Linked DNA regions of Homo sapiens: regions 1 and 2 are each linked to region 3. The links come from fine-mapping of genetic effects on gene expression. A gene starts in region 3. Each other region holds a variant in brackets. All regions are shown on one strand. Distances are from middle to middle.

The links. PIP is the estimated chance that this variant, and not a neighbour inherited with it, causes the effect. A credible set is the group of variants that fine-mapping cannot tell apart.
Region 1: its variant is the best candidate, but not a certain one, in a credible set for the expression of ERCC5 in nasal epithelium (TOPMed, PIP 0.76).
Region 2: its variant is the best candidate, but not a certain one, in a credible set for the expression of ERCC5 in whole blood (TOPMed, PIP 0.62).

The regions. Positions count from the first base shown.
Region 1 is chr13:102,872,608-102,876,850 of GRCh38, forward strand. It overlaps BIVM-ERCC5 (BIVM-ERCC5 readthrough), which reads left to right. Exons shown (of 23, transcript NM_001204425.2): 22 at 652-736; 23 at 2,700-3,388. The coding sequence ends at 3,296. It overlaps ERCC5 (ERCC excision repair 5, endonuclease), which reads left to right. Exons shown (of 15, transcript NM_000123.4): 14 at 652-736; 15 at 2,700-3,388. The coding sequence ends at 3,296. Among named protein-coding and RNA genes, the nearest start is that of ERCC5, 29 kb to the left of the region's middle. The variant T/TCTC (reference allele first, on the strand shown) is at 2,140.
Region 2 is chr13:102,879,383-102,883,625 of GRCh38, forward strand. It overlaps the pseudogene METTL21EP. Among named protein-coding and RNA genes, the nearest start is that of ERCC5, 35 kb to the left of the region's middle. The variant G/C (reference allele first, on the strand shown) is at 2,109.
Region 3 is chr13:102,843,523-102,847,765 of GRCh38, forward strand. ERCC5 (ERCC excision repair 5, endonuclease) reads left to right here and starts at 2,510. Exons shown (of 15, transcript NM_000123.4): 1 at 2,510-2,832. The coding sequence starts at 2,745. All of the region lies in intron 9 of BIVM-ERCC5 (BIVM-ERCC5 readthrough), which reads left to right. RefSeq lists enhancers at 1,440-2,264, 1,849-1,898, 2,109-2,898, 2,265-3,087 and a silencer at 3,249-3,298.

The DNA of each region.
Region 1 (4,243 bases), 29 kb after region 3:
TGTCACCCAGCCTGGAGTGCAGTGGTGCAATCATAGCTCACTGCAGCCACCACTTCCTGGGCTCAAGGAATCCTCCTGCCTCAGCCTCCTAAGTAGCACAAGCCACTGCATCTGGCCCCTCTCCTTAGTTTTAAAGAGGGTCTTTGTTTGAATAAGCAGTGATAAGCATTCATAGATATAACCACATACTTAAATATTATTGATTCTGAAAGAAGGAAAGATGACTAATCTTGTCCTTTTTATTACTGGTTGTCCTTTCCGTGTATATTTAAGTAATCATTTGGATAGATGTTTCAAAACTTGCACTAGAATTAATCCAACTACGTTTGATTTTTTCTCTTAATGAAATAGGCAAGATATCTGAAACTTGTTTTTATTCCAGTTAACCTTTTTTCATAGTCACAAGTCTTTGATGTCCTAAAGTGAGAGCTAAATATGTTTTATTTTATAGAATTGAAAAGAACATAGTGCCAGATGATTATGCTGGAGTCATTTATTTTGTTAGTACTTTCTTTTAGCACTCTAATCTTTATAAATAGGAAAATCTTAGGAGATACAGGGAATGGAATCAAGAATGGGTTCTTTGGACCTTTTTATTTGTCACTTGTTTAAATATCTTTCAAAATATTTATAAGTCTTAACTGCATGCATATTTTGTCAGCGGTATTTCGGCTGGAACAGAACGAAGACAGATGAATCTCTGTTTCCTGTATTAAAGCAACTCGATGCCCAGCAGGTAATCATGGTGGACCCTTCTCCTAAGTTCAGGATGAAGGGTAGGCTGTGGTTGACAGCTGTTAAAGACCAGTTAACTCTTATTTTGGGGCATAGAGCAGACATTTTGAAATTAGGATAATTTAGATGAGAGAATAGAAGAAAATAGAAAAAGAAAAGTTAGACTTTGGCTTCATTTTCTATGATCACTCTTAGGGCTGAACTTTGGAGTCCTTTCATATTCATTTTTTTCTTTGAAAAAACCAGTCTAATAACTGATTTCACACTAAGGTGTTTCTGATTAAATACATTACCCCTTGGGATTTACTTTCATTTTTTAACGAAAGGAAGTCTTCAAAGCAATTCTGATCATTTAAGTTTTTATAAGTACTAATATTTTTAAATTCTATAAACGAATCTTGAAAGGTAGAAGTTCAGTCATTATTGTGTATCAGTAGGAGAGGTTTTTGTGGGAAGGAGCCCTTTTGTATGACCTTTAGTTCCTCTAGGTACCTACTTCTTGCTTTATCTGTGAGTATGTTCTGACTCACACAAAACAAGCTTTCGCCCACACTAGAAACAACCCACAAAACATACATACAAATAAACCACTTAGCAGAAATGAGAATGTAGCTTTTGTGATAATATATTTAAATTAAACCCATTTTCATTAGGCTTGGATAATTTTGAAAAACATGAACAAAACTAAGACAGCATTTCTATGAGTTTCTCTTTGTTTTTTGGATGACTATCTACTGGAAACATTATAAACCAACCAAAAAGGAAAGCTATTTGTCTTAGTGTCTGGTGATTTCTTAATTTCAGATAAATTTTGTTGTAATATTTATCTCCTTTTTCATTCTAAAACTTAATGTGTTTATTTTTCCAAAATTAGAAAATGAAGAAAATGAATTAAAACTACTCATTAGTTACCTCCTCTAATACAGTTGTTAACATTTAGGTTAAAAAATTTTCCTGCATTTATTTGTGGCCATACTAAATGTAACTTAATAGATCTAATCCTCCCCCCCAACTTATTAGCATATTTTCTTCTATGTATTGTGTGGTTTTCTTAATTCCAGATGACTAGATTATATTTCATGAAAGATATTTAAATAATTAGTTCAGTTTACTTGTTAGACCTTTAATTTTCAAGTTTGTTATAGTAATGCTGTGATGAACATTAGGCATATAGCTTTACCCATATATTTTTTTTTTGAGACGGAGTCTCACTCTGTCTCCCAGGCTGGAGTGCAGTGGTGAGAACTCGGCTCACTGCAAGCTCCGCCTCCCGGGTTCACGCCATTCTCCTGCCTCAGCCTCCCGAGTAGCTGGGACTACAGGCGCCCGCCACCACGCCTGGCTAATGTTTTGTATTTTTTTAGTAGAGACGGGGTTTCACCGTGTAAGCCAGAATGGTCTCGA[T/TCTC]CTGACCTCGTGATCCACCCACCTCGGCCTCCCAGAGTGCTGGGGTTACAGGCGTGAGCCACCATGCCCGGCCAAAGAATATCTTCTTAAAAGTGAATTTACTGAATAAAAGGCATGAATATTTCTTACAGTTGCTAATATATACTGTGAACTTGCCTCTCAAAGGTATTGTATGATGATAATGTTTTTAAAAGAAAGATATAGTAGGACTTAGAAACAGGCCCCATGAAGTCGTGTTGCTCCTGAGGAAGATGAAATGTTTAGCTACAGAAAAATATTTAACGCTCTTTGAATATCTTAGGAAGAGATTTCTCATTTGAGATGTGGACTAAAGACTTAGTTGACAGAGATGGTACAAGTACTGCTTTAGGTATGATTTAGAAAGTGAAAATTACTGTCAGTAATTCACTGGGAGAGAACTGGGTTTTGGGAGATAATGAATTAATATTCTCTGACATAGTAATCCAATGTGAGTGATCAAGGTTGAGCTTGTTGATTTGGTTTAGAAACTTGACTTACTTGTCTGATTTATTATTATTATTCTTTTGTTATTTTTTTAGACACAGCTCCGAATTGATTCCTTCTTTAGATTAGCACAACAGGAGAAAGAAGATGCTAAACGTATTAAGAGCCAGAGACTAAACAGAGCTGTGACATGTATGCTAAGGAAAGAGAAAGAAGCAGCAGCCAGCGAAATAGAAGCAGTTTCTGTTGCCATGGAGAAAGAATTTGAGCTACTTGATAAGGCAAAAGGAAAAACCCAGAAGAGAGGCATAACAAATACCTTAGAAGAGTCATCAAGCCTGAAAAGAAAGAGGCTTTCAGATTCTAAAGGAAAGAATACATGCGGTGGATTTTTGGGGGAGACCTGCCTCTCAGAATCATCTGATGGATCTTCAAGTGAAGATGCTGAAAGTTCATCTTTAATGAATGTACAAAGGAGAACAGCTGCGAAAGAGCCAAAAACCAGTGCTTCAGATTCGCAGAACTCAGTGAAGGAAGCTCCCGTGAAGAATGGAGGTGCGACCACCAGCAGCTCTAGTGATAGTGATGACGATGGAGGGAAAGAGAAGATGGTCCTCGTGACCGCCAGATCTGTGTTTGGGAAGAAAAGAAGGAAACTAAGACGTGCGAGGGGAAGAAAAAGGAAAACCTAATTAAAAAATATGTATCCTCTATAATTAGTTATGACAGCCATTTGTAATGAATTTGTCGCAAAGACGTAATAAAATTAACTGGTGGCACGGTCTTTGTATTTAGTGTGTGGTTCCTAAAAACAAATGCTAAATCTGACATTTGTTTTTTAATGTTTTACTTTTCTAGTATTTTTTAGCTGAATATTTCAAGTATCATTGGATATTATCTTGTATTCACAGGCTTTGTCTTTTCATGTTTTCATTATCTTAACAATGTCTGATCCTTCCTGGTCACATGTTAAAAAAGCGAAAAAGATTTCTATTGATCAGCACTCACTCTCAATAGGCTTTCCCTCTGACATTCAGACGTAGCTGAGAAGAAATACGTGCATGTTTCTAATTCCACAATAGTGGCAGTTTTACACAACTGTTTAGCCCTGCTGCCCACGGCTTTGCATTTTCCCTCAGGTTCCACTTAAAAGCATAGCAGGAGGGAGCCTCACTGCTGGAACATATTTCAATATGTTTGCTGTGGTTTTAGCAAACAATTAGGAAACCTAAATGGGGTGCATCATTCTACCTGTGAACATTAAGTGTATGGGAACCTCTGTACCGTTATGTTTGGCTTTTAAACCAGACTTCACTTATTAGAAGCTGACTTCTGTGTAAATGGATTTGGAGGCTGGGGGCTGGAGTTGAACTGGTGTAGGTGGGTCAGCTTTAGGAGTGGCCTGCAGGGGATGATTGTTGTTGACACAGTGTTTGTTCAGAGTGGACAAAGAAGGTTATTTTAAGACTGCTCCTGTGGAGACGTCTCCCAAGAACAACCCCCAAGCTCCTATTTGCTTCGAGTTAAGAATGATTGGAGGAGAGTACTACCAATTACTTTGAGCGTGGGTCCTCTGCCTTCAGAGCTACCTTCCCAAGTCTGTGTCCTTTTGGCATCTTTAGTATTTCCATCTTTCCTG
Region 2 (4,243 bases), 36 kb after region 3:
ACTAAGTAAATGGCTTAAAATCACAATCTAATTATAGGCAGGAATAACTAAAATCAGGCTTCCCAACTCCTAGCCCTTTCCAATACATTAAAGTGACCTCGATTCATCTGTGTATACATTATGGACCTGTAGTCACACTCCTAAGTTTAACTTTCCAATATTGCTTTATCTTAACTCTGTAACTTTCTATCAGGGATCTTTCCAGTGGCATGGGAAATGTGTATGTCCTCTGAGAGGCACACATACATGCACTTGGGCAGGTGCACAGATGGATCTATGTTCGGAGCCTGCCCATTCAGTCTGAATAAAAAGGAATCATGGTAGTTTGATTTCTGGGTGCAGAGCAATGCTACAGACATTCTAGTATGGTTGTTGGAGTCTAAAGACAGTGTTCCCATGCAGATAGGTGACATGAAAAATATGTAGCGTTCATTTCCTAGAATGTCATAGCCACGGAGTCTTAGAATAACTCTTGGCATCCAAGTTAAAAGCTGGATCACTTCCTCCAAATAGTCTTCACTCACTTCCGGGAGTGGGTTGTATTCACCTTTAGCTCTGTTCACGAGACACTCGTGGGATATTCCTAGCCTTCTGCCCCCTTAGTTACGGGCATTGCCGTCTCACTGCTGTATAACCAGAGGCGTGGGAGCTGCAGCTGTCAGAATCCTAATCCCTTCTGCCTGGACTCGTTACCAGTGGTAGCGAGTGTGTATAGTAGTAAACTGTGCTGCGATGCTAGCCTTTCAGTCACTACCAGAGGTCCCAGCAGCAAAAACAAAAATTGTGGATGATACATTTTAACCTTCTAGAAACTCAGCTAACTCCTTTAGGTATGTCCAGGCTTTCCATTTAAATATCAGCCTTAAGGCAGACATGTCTTTCTTTAATGGAAGAGATCTAAATTGGGAGCAAAACATGTGACCACTTTTGCTATCGTTTTAGCTGTGTAGCCTCAATGACATAATTTAACCTTGGTTTTCCTGATTTGCAAACTGTAGGGAAAATAATGTCTTCTAACTTGCTGAAGTATGCTGTAAAAGAAAATGTGGTGGCTGTAAAATGTGCTTTGGGATTCTCGGAAGAAAGGAGTGCTATATTAATTCATGGTACTGCAATTGTTATTTTACCCCAGATTGAGAAGTAAAATATCAAATCGTTATTTTCTAAAGTTTGAATAACTGTTAAATTTATTCAGATAATCTGCTCTATTCAAGAGGCATAAATAGTTTCTTCAGTTTTAAATATATCGGCTGTGATGGTATGGACTCCTTAAGGTAGACGCTGCTCAAAAGATTATCTGGCAATGAGGCTGTTTGACATTGCATAGGTGCTAATGATGCATTGATGGTAACAAGTGAACTTTCAATGTTTTAATCGCCTCTTAAATTTTAGGATTGCAGTCTTACTAGTCAATATGAAGATGATGCCTTTCTTTGTTACAACTGAGGTAGTCTCTGGTGAAGAATATGTTTTCTTTCTGTAGTAGCTTTTTAAAATTTCTGACTCAGAAGCTTTTGTTCTGATTTTAATTTGTTCTAGATAGTGTTTAGATGGTCTTTCTTAAGTCACGCTTCGTTAATATATGATATTTTAATATAATTTTGTCTGCTGTATTTGAAGTTAAGCTTTATTAAGAAACTATAAAAGCACTCCATACATATTTTGAATTATTACCATTTGATATTTTAATGTATTATCTATCTAGTTTTCAAGAAATAATGAAGAAAACATCAATATATCACCTACCATCATTTCATTACTTGATGGATTCAGAAGCTCAAGAAGGTAAGTCATTTTATGTTTATGTAGCTTACCAATTCTAAGAAGACAAATAACTAATAGAATATAAAGTGTCACCTTTGTAGTATTCATTAATGTCTTAAATGGAGCTGACACTTTTATCAATGGCATATTATGTCTTGGTTTATATTTGTGAGCCTGCAAACATCTTGAATCATGTTTAAGTCTATTACTATACCATGATCTTGATGATATGTTAAAGATACTTTTGACAGATTAAATTAAATATATAGACTTACTAAGCATGTACAGGGTTTTTGATCTTCAAATAAGGAATACATTTTTTTCTCAAGTGCTGTACACTAAAT[G/C]TATGATGTGATTTCTAAGCAAATTTTATTTCAGATAAGAAGCTTGCAAGAAAGATAAAAATAGTTTTATGTGAAAACTATAAGTTTTTACTGGTGGTTGGATGAAAGGTGAATTTAGGCTATACAGACATCTGTAGCCTGAGTTTATGGTTCCTCTAACTATTTATTAGAGGCAAATACATAATGTAATTTGACCTCTGGATGTAAAGAGATTAAGTTTGAATTCTACTATCAGTGTGGTTATTTGAAATTGAACCATCATTTTTATATAGTCTTAAGTATCAAGCGTGACTTTGCATGGGTTATGTAATATAACTGTCCCCATTGTCTTGAGATCAAAAGTACAGACATACACTCTTGACAGACTAGAAAAATTACCATATTTTTGTAGAGCAGTTGTAATACAAATCTAAATATCTTGATTTCTTTTGTTCTCTCCTTATCTGCACACACTGTAGATGTTTTCTGAACACTATAGTTCTGGTTTTTCTGTTTTTGGCCATTCCAGGTGGCTTCTACCTAGGAGAACACATCTTTAGGCCAAGAAAGCTGGGTGTATGCCCAGTGTTGGCAGCCTACCTGGCTTAAACACAAATAGTTTTACCAAGCGATTCTTGCAAACCTAACCATTTAAGTCGATCACTTAGAGAACCCAGCCATTTAGATGATTTGAATGAAGACGCAATTTCTGTATGGTTTATGAATAAAATTATATCATTATCATTACCATTAGTAACAATTCTTGGTTTCAACTGTGTAGAAGATAATTTGGCAAATTACAAAGGAAGTGGAAGAAGTTCAAGGTAAGGTTGAGACGGAACTAGCATTACAATGTTTTACAACACAAACAAACACACTCTGTAATCATCTATATAGCCAAATGAAGCTTTAAAAATGTGTTCACACACACAGAGCTAAGGGAATTAAGGATGTGCCCTTGGAGCAGATCAGGTGGCATTTAGTTGGAAAGCCATCACCAAGTAGAGGAACACTCAGTTCTCAAGTACTGAAGGATACTGACTTTTCCTGCCCTCTTTTATACTTAGAATCCTGTGCTTGGAAAGGATGGAGCAAACCCATAGCTCAGTGCTCATATTTCAACACTGGCATGAAGATCCAAGAACTATAGGATGTCACTTATTTATACACAGATTAAAATTAGGGCTATGGTGGGTGCTAAAAAATTCTTCTGTATGTGTTTCTAAGGCTATATTGTAATCTAAGGTGTCTAAAACCTTACCCACATTAACTATTCTAAATATCCTATGTTGCCTGCCTCATGCCAGCAGCCTCTCTCCAGCTGTTAGTACACGTAGCAATCTGTTATAGAATAGTAGGGTCACCGGAGGACCTGCAGCCTTGGGGCAGATTCATCCTTGCCCAAGGCTCAGTGATTCTGGCTCTCAATGACCCTCGAGTCTGTCACGTCAGCTGCTTACTTGACATCCTACTTACTACCTCTTGTCAGTTTAGGGCCTTCAAGACATAGATGCCAAAATGGGGCTAAGCATGTAAGGGATTTACTGGGGGAAATGTTTGTGGAGGATAAGGAAGAAAACAGAAGTAGGCTAGGGGAGCCTTCAGAGCCCAACATGGGTCCAGTGCCCGTGAGAGGAGACAGAAGACAGATTGGATGGGAAGAGTCTCCAATTGCAACACAATTCTGAGACAGTCTCAGGTGGGCTGATGAAAATCCCTGAGCAGGAGTTGCCCACTAGAGGAGTGTCCTATATGGAACAGGAACTGGCTGGCTTGAGTAGGCAGCCTCAGGAGGAACATGGTCTCCCAGGAGCCACAGGTGCAGCAATGGGCAGTGTTGGGCAACTCTGCTCCTTGTGGCAGGTTCTCTTAATCTGAGTGGCACACCAGGGTAATATGTATTTAAAATAATTTTCCTTTACAGGTTTGCCCTTCCACCTATATTTTCGATCTCACTCAATGGCAACATCACTCCCCAGGCTACCCAGAAACCTGGAATCATCCTGATTTTCTCCCTTTCCTTCACACCCTTCATCATTACATCTCATTGATTTTACATTCCTGATATGTTTCCCTACGCCTTGTTCCATTTCCACCATCACTTACCTTGATTCTTCATTATCTCTGCTCCTGACTGCTGTTAACCACCTTCTAAT
Region 3 (4,243 bases):
CCTAATGGCCTCGTTTCAATTTAATCATTTTTAAACGCTGTGTCTTCAGATAGTCACATTCTGAGGTACTCAGGCTTCCACAGATGAATTTTGGAGGACACAATTCAGACCATAACACAAGGCAACATATGGTTCAGATGAGATCTGAATGAATGATCAGCCTAACCTCCAAGCAGATTCTTTCAGCAGACTGCAAGGTGCACTGGAGAGCTTTAGACTAGAGGCTTAAGAGGTCATTTAGGCAATATTTACAGAACTGCTAAGTGCCAGGATTGGGGGATGTAGCAGTCACGAAAATCGTTCTTCGTTTCAGTAAGTTTACAGTTTACCATGGGGAAGAGACAAATACTGAACAGGCAGTTATATTACTCTCAGTAAAATAACAACTGGGAACAGTTTCTGGGGATTACTTTACATATGGAGGAAATGCAAAAAACACTTTGTCAGGATTATTCCTGTAGCAAATTAGATGTGACTAGGTCAACCAAACATGGCCACTGTGAACCATCTTATTGAGCATAGAAGTGGTTTTGCTAAAAATGGATTTCTCCACGGAGCACGGTGGCTCATGTCTGTAACTCCAGCACTTTGGGAGACTGAGGCAGGAGGATTGTTTGAGACCAGTTTGGGCAACAAAGCAAGACCCTGTCTCAAAAAAAAAAAAATCAGGGCGTGGTGGTGGGGGCCTGTAATCTCAACTACTCGGGAGGCTGAGGCAAGAGCATCACTTGAGCCTGAGAGGTGGAAGTTGCAGTAAGCTGAGACTGCACTACTGCACTCTAGCCTGGGCGACAGAGTGAGACCCTGTCAAAAAAATAAAAAATAAAAAAATAAAAAAAATCAATTTCCCGTATACTTCTGTTATAAAGAAGTCTTTAAAAAATTGCCTGCTCCCTTAAGTCAGCCTTTTCACTGAGTTTAAATTTCGTTCCAATTTGAACAAATATGGATGCTAATACTATCCTTTATAGTTACTAGTGCTAAGTGCGTTGCATGTAACACCTTGAATACTTACTGAAGTCTGCAAGGTTGGTTTTATGCCCTGATTACTGATGGAGACACAAATTCTGAACAACTGTGACTTCAGGGATGCTAAACACCATAGTGAGGCACGATGCGGGGATTTGAATCTTGGCCTGAGGGTTCCAGAGCTGTGGCCTTTTCTGGGGTTACTCTGTTAATTGATTTCTAGTCCTTTCTGATCTACAAGCCGCGGCATTATAACTTTTAGATGCTGAAGAAAACTAAACTATATGTCAAGGATTAAGGCTTGTGAACCCCCAAAATTTGGGACAGGTCTCAGTTAATTTAGAAAGTTTATTTTGCCAACGTTAAGGACGCGCAGCTGTGACACAGCCCCAGGAAGTCCAGATGACATGTGCCCAAGGTGGTTGGGGCACAGATTGGTTTTATACATTTTAGGGAGACAGGAGACATCAATCAACATATGTAAGTACACTGGTTCCTTCCAGAAAGGTGGGGACAACTCGGAAGCAGGAAGGGCTTCTAGGTCACAGGTAGATGAGAGACAAAAGGCTGCATACGAGTTTCTGATAAGCCTTTCCAAAGGAGACAATCAGAATATGCATCTATCTCAGTGAGCAGAAGGATGACTGACTAGAATGGGAGGCAGGTTTTGCCCTGAGCAGTTCCCAGCTTGACTTTTCCCTTTTGCTTAGTAATTTTGGGACCCTAACATTTTCACAGGCTTTAAATTTTATTATTCTTTAGTTACTACGTGCTAGCATATAAATAAATAGTACAAAACCAAGAAGGCATCCACCTTTTGGTTGTCTCTTCACGTGTAAAACAACACTTTGTGTTAAGTATCTTCACACACGGCGGCGCAAAGGTAGAAACCGATACTAAAAAAGCGTGTAGAAAATAGTTCCCAGCCTGGGCAACACAGGGAGACCTCATTTCTACAAAAATAATTCGCCAAGCATAGTGGTGCGCACCTGCGGTCCCAGCTACTTGAGAGGCTGAGATGGGAAAGTTGCTTGAGCTCGGGCAGCAGGAGTTCCAGGCTGCAGTGAGCTAAGAATGCGCCACTGGACTCCAGTATGGGCGACAGCGTGAGACCCTGTCTCAAACAAAAACAAAAGCCCGTTACTCCACCAAGAAGGCGCTTTTGCACATTGTTTTAATGCTTAACGCCTTCAGGATGCCAGCGTGACGGAAGCAAGTAACCACCAAGGCATCACCACTGGCGCTAAACTTCTCACTTCCGGAGTGCTGCAAGCGCAGAAAATATACGTCATGTGCGGAGGCGGAGCTTCCGCCCTGCGCGTCGTATTAGACGGAAACCGAGCGGGCCCATTTTTCATGGGTTTGCGGACCCACCAGCGAAGGCGGGAGGTGTCGCAGGGACATCTTCTGGCTGTTTCCGTCGCCTGCGTGGCCCTTGCACCCCGGTCTTCCATTAGCGGCGCAGACGTTTGGGCCTAAGCGCTGGGCGAGGCGAGGCCCTGCCCCTCCCCGCCAACGGCCATTCTCTGGACCTGTCTTTCTTCCGGGAGGCGGTGACAGCTGCTGAGACGTGTTGCAGCCAGAGTCTCTCCGCTTTAATGCGCTCCCATTAGTGCCGTCCCCCACTGGAAAACCGTGGCTTCTGTATTATTTGCCATCTTTGTTGTGTAGGAGCAGGGAGGGCTTCCTCCCGGGGTCCTAGGCGGCGGTGCAGTCCGTCGTAGAAGAATTAGAGTAGAAGTTGTCGGGGTCCGCTCTTAGGACGCAGCCGCCTCATGGGGGTCCAGGGGCTCTGGAAGCTGCTGGAGTGCTCCGGGCGGCAGGTCAGCCCCGAAGCGCTGGAAGGGAAGATCCTGGCTGTTGGTATCCTTAACGCCGCGTTGGGACTTGGGGTGCAGGGATTCGGGGCTGGATTCCTCGCGGGGCTCTGCCTTGGGCACAGTGGCATCTGCAGGATGATGGTCTTGGGTCGGGGTCGGGGTCGCTATAGAATCTCTGTCACTAGGTTTTCTAAGTACAGTCGTCCCTCGGTATCCCCGGGGCTTTGGTTCCAGCCCCTCCTCCGTATACCACGATGTTCAAGTTCCTTCAACTCCCTTATATAATGGCGTGGTATTTGCATATAAACTACCCACTTCCGTAATCTTTTAAATCGTTTCTAGCTTACTTGTAATGCCGAATGCAATGTAAGTGATCTGTAAATAGTTGTTATACTGTATTTTAAAATTTTTTGTAGTTTTTATTGGTATGTTTTATTTATTTATTTTTTTCCATCGCAAATATTTTTGATCCGTGGTAGGTTGATTGCGGAATCGGGTGATGAGGCGGGCCGCCCTGTCTGCTTTCCCCAGCTTTGCAGTCTTAGCGGCCTGTGCATCCTGGTTTGTCACTTTGTGGCAGTGCTTTATGTTCCTCTCTGCCTTAGTTCTCTCATCTGCAAAGTAGAGGTGGTGATAGTATCTACACACAGGATTGGAATGAGGAATAAAGAAATTGCCTACATGAGAGAAGTTTAGTGCGATTAATACAGTAAATCTTAAAGTTATTATCCTGTCCGGGAGGTCAGTAAGGAGAGCAGAGTAGACTTCGACGATTAGTTTTGCTTGAGTCTTGCCCCATTTATGTTTCTTAGAGGAAGGATAGTGTGGACAGGTGTTTTACCCATTTTTTAAATTGACTTTTTAAGGACTATTGTTTCTGTACATGTTTGGCTGGTTTTGTTTGTCATTGGAATTAAATTCTTTTTTCATTAGCAAAACGTGATACTGCTTTTGAAATTTTTATCTTTTTCTTTGTTATGTAGTCATTTTTTTTTTTTTTTTGAGTATCTATTCTGGCTCAGAATCTGGTGATACCTTACACCAATTTCCTAAATGGGGATCTATGAGTCTAGGGGCTCGTGGGCTTGTGGAAAGAGTCCTGTAAATGATTGCGGGGGGATTGGGGACGGGAAATGGAGTGCAAGAGTGTGTGGGCGTTCAGCAAAGGAATCCCTGACTGTGGAGCCCTAATTCTTCAGTAGGTACAAAACTTATAAATAAAACGACATTGATAAGTTTTAAAACATAATGAGATTATCATTTTTTGCAAGTGAATAATCTTTAAATAAATCTGTAATTGATTTTTGGCTTAAAAGTTTTTATACAGGGTACTTTGAATTGGGGAAAGCCAAAGGATTTTTGTTTTGTTTTGTTTTGTTTTTTGTTTTTTAGAGCACATGCGCTGTTGCTGCCCTCAAGCTGTTGCTTAGTATCATTGCAGTCTAAAGATTTTC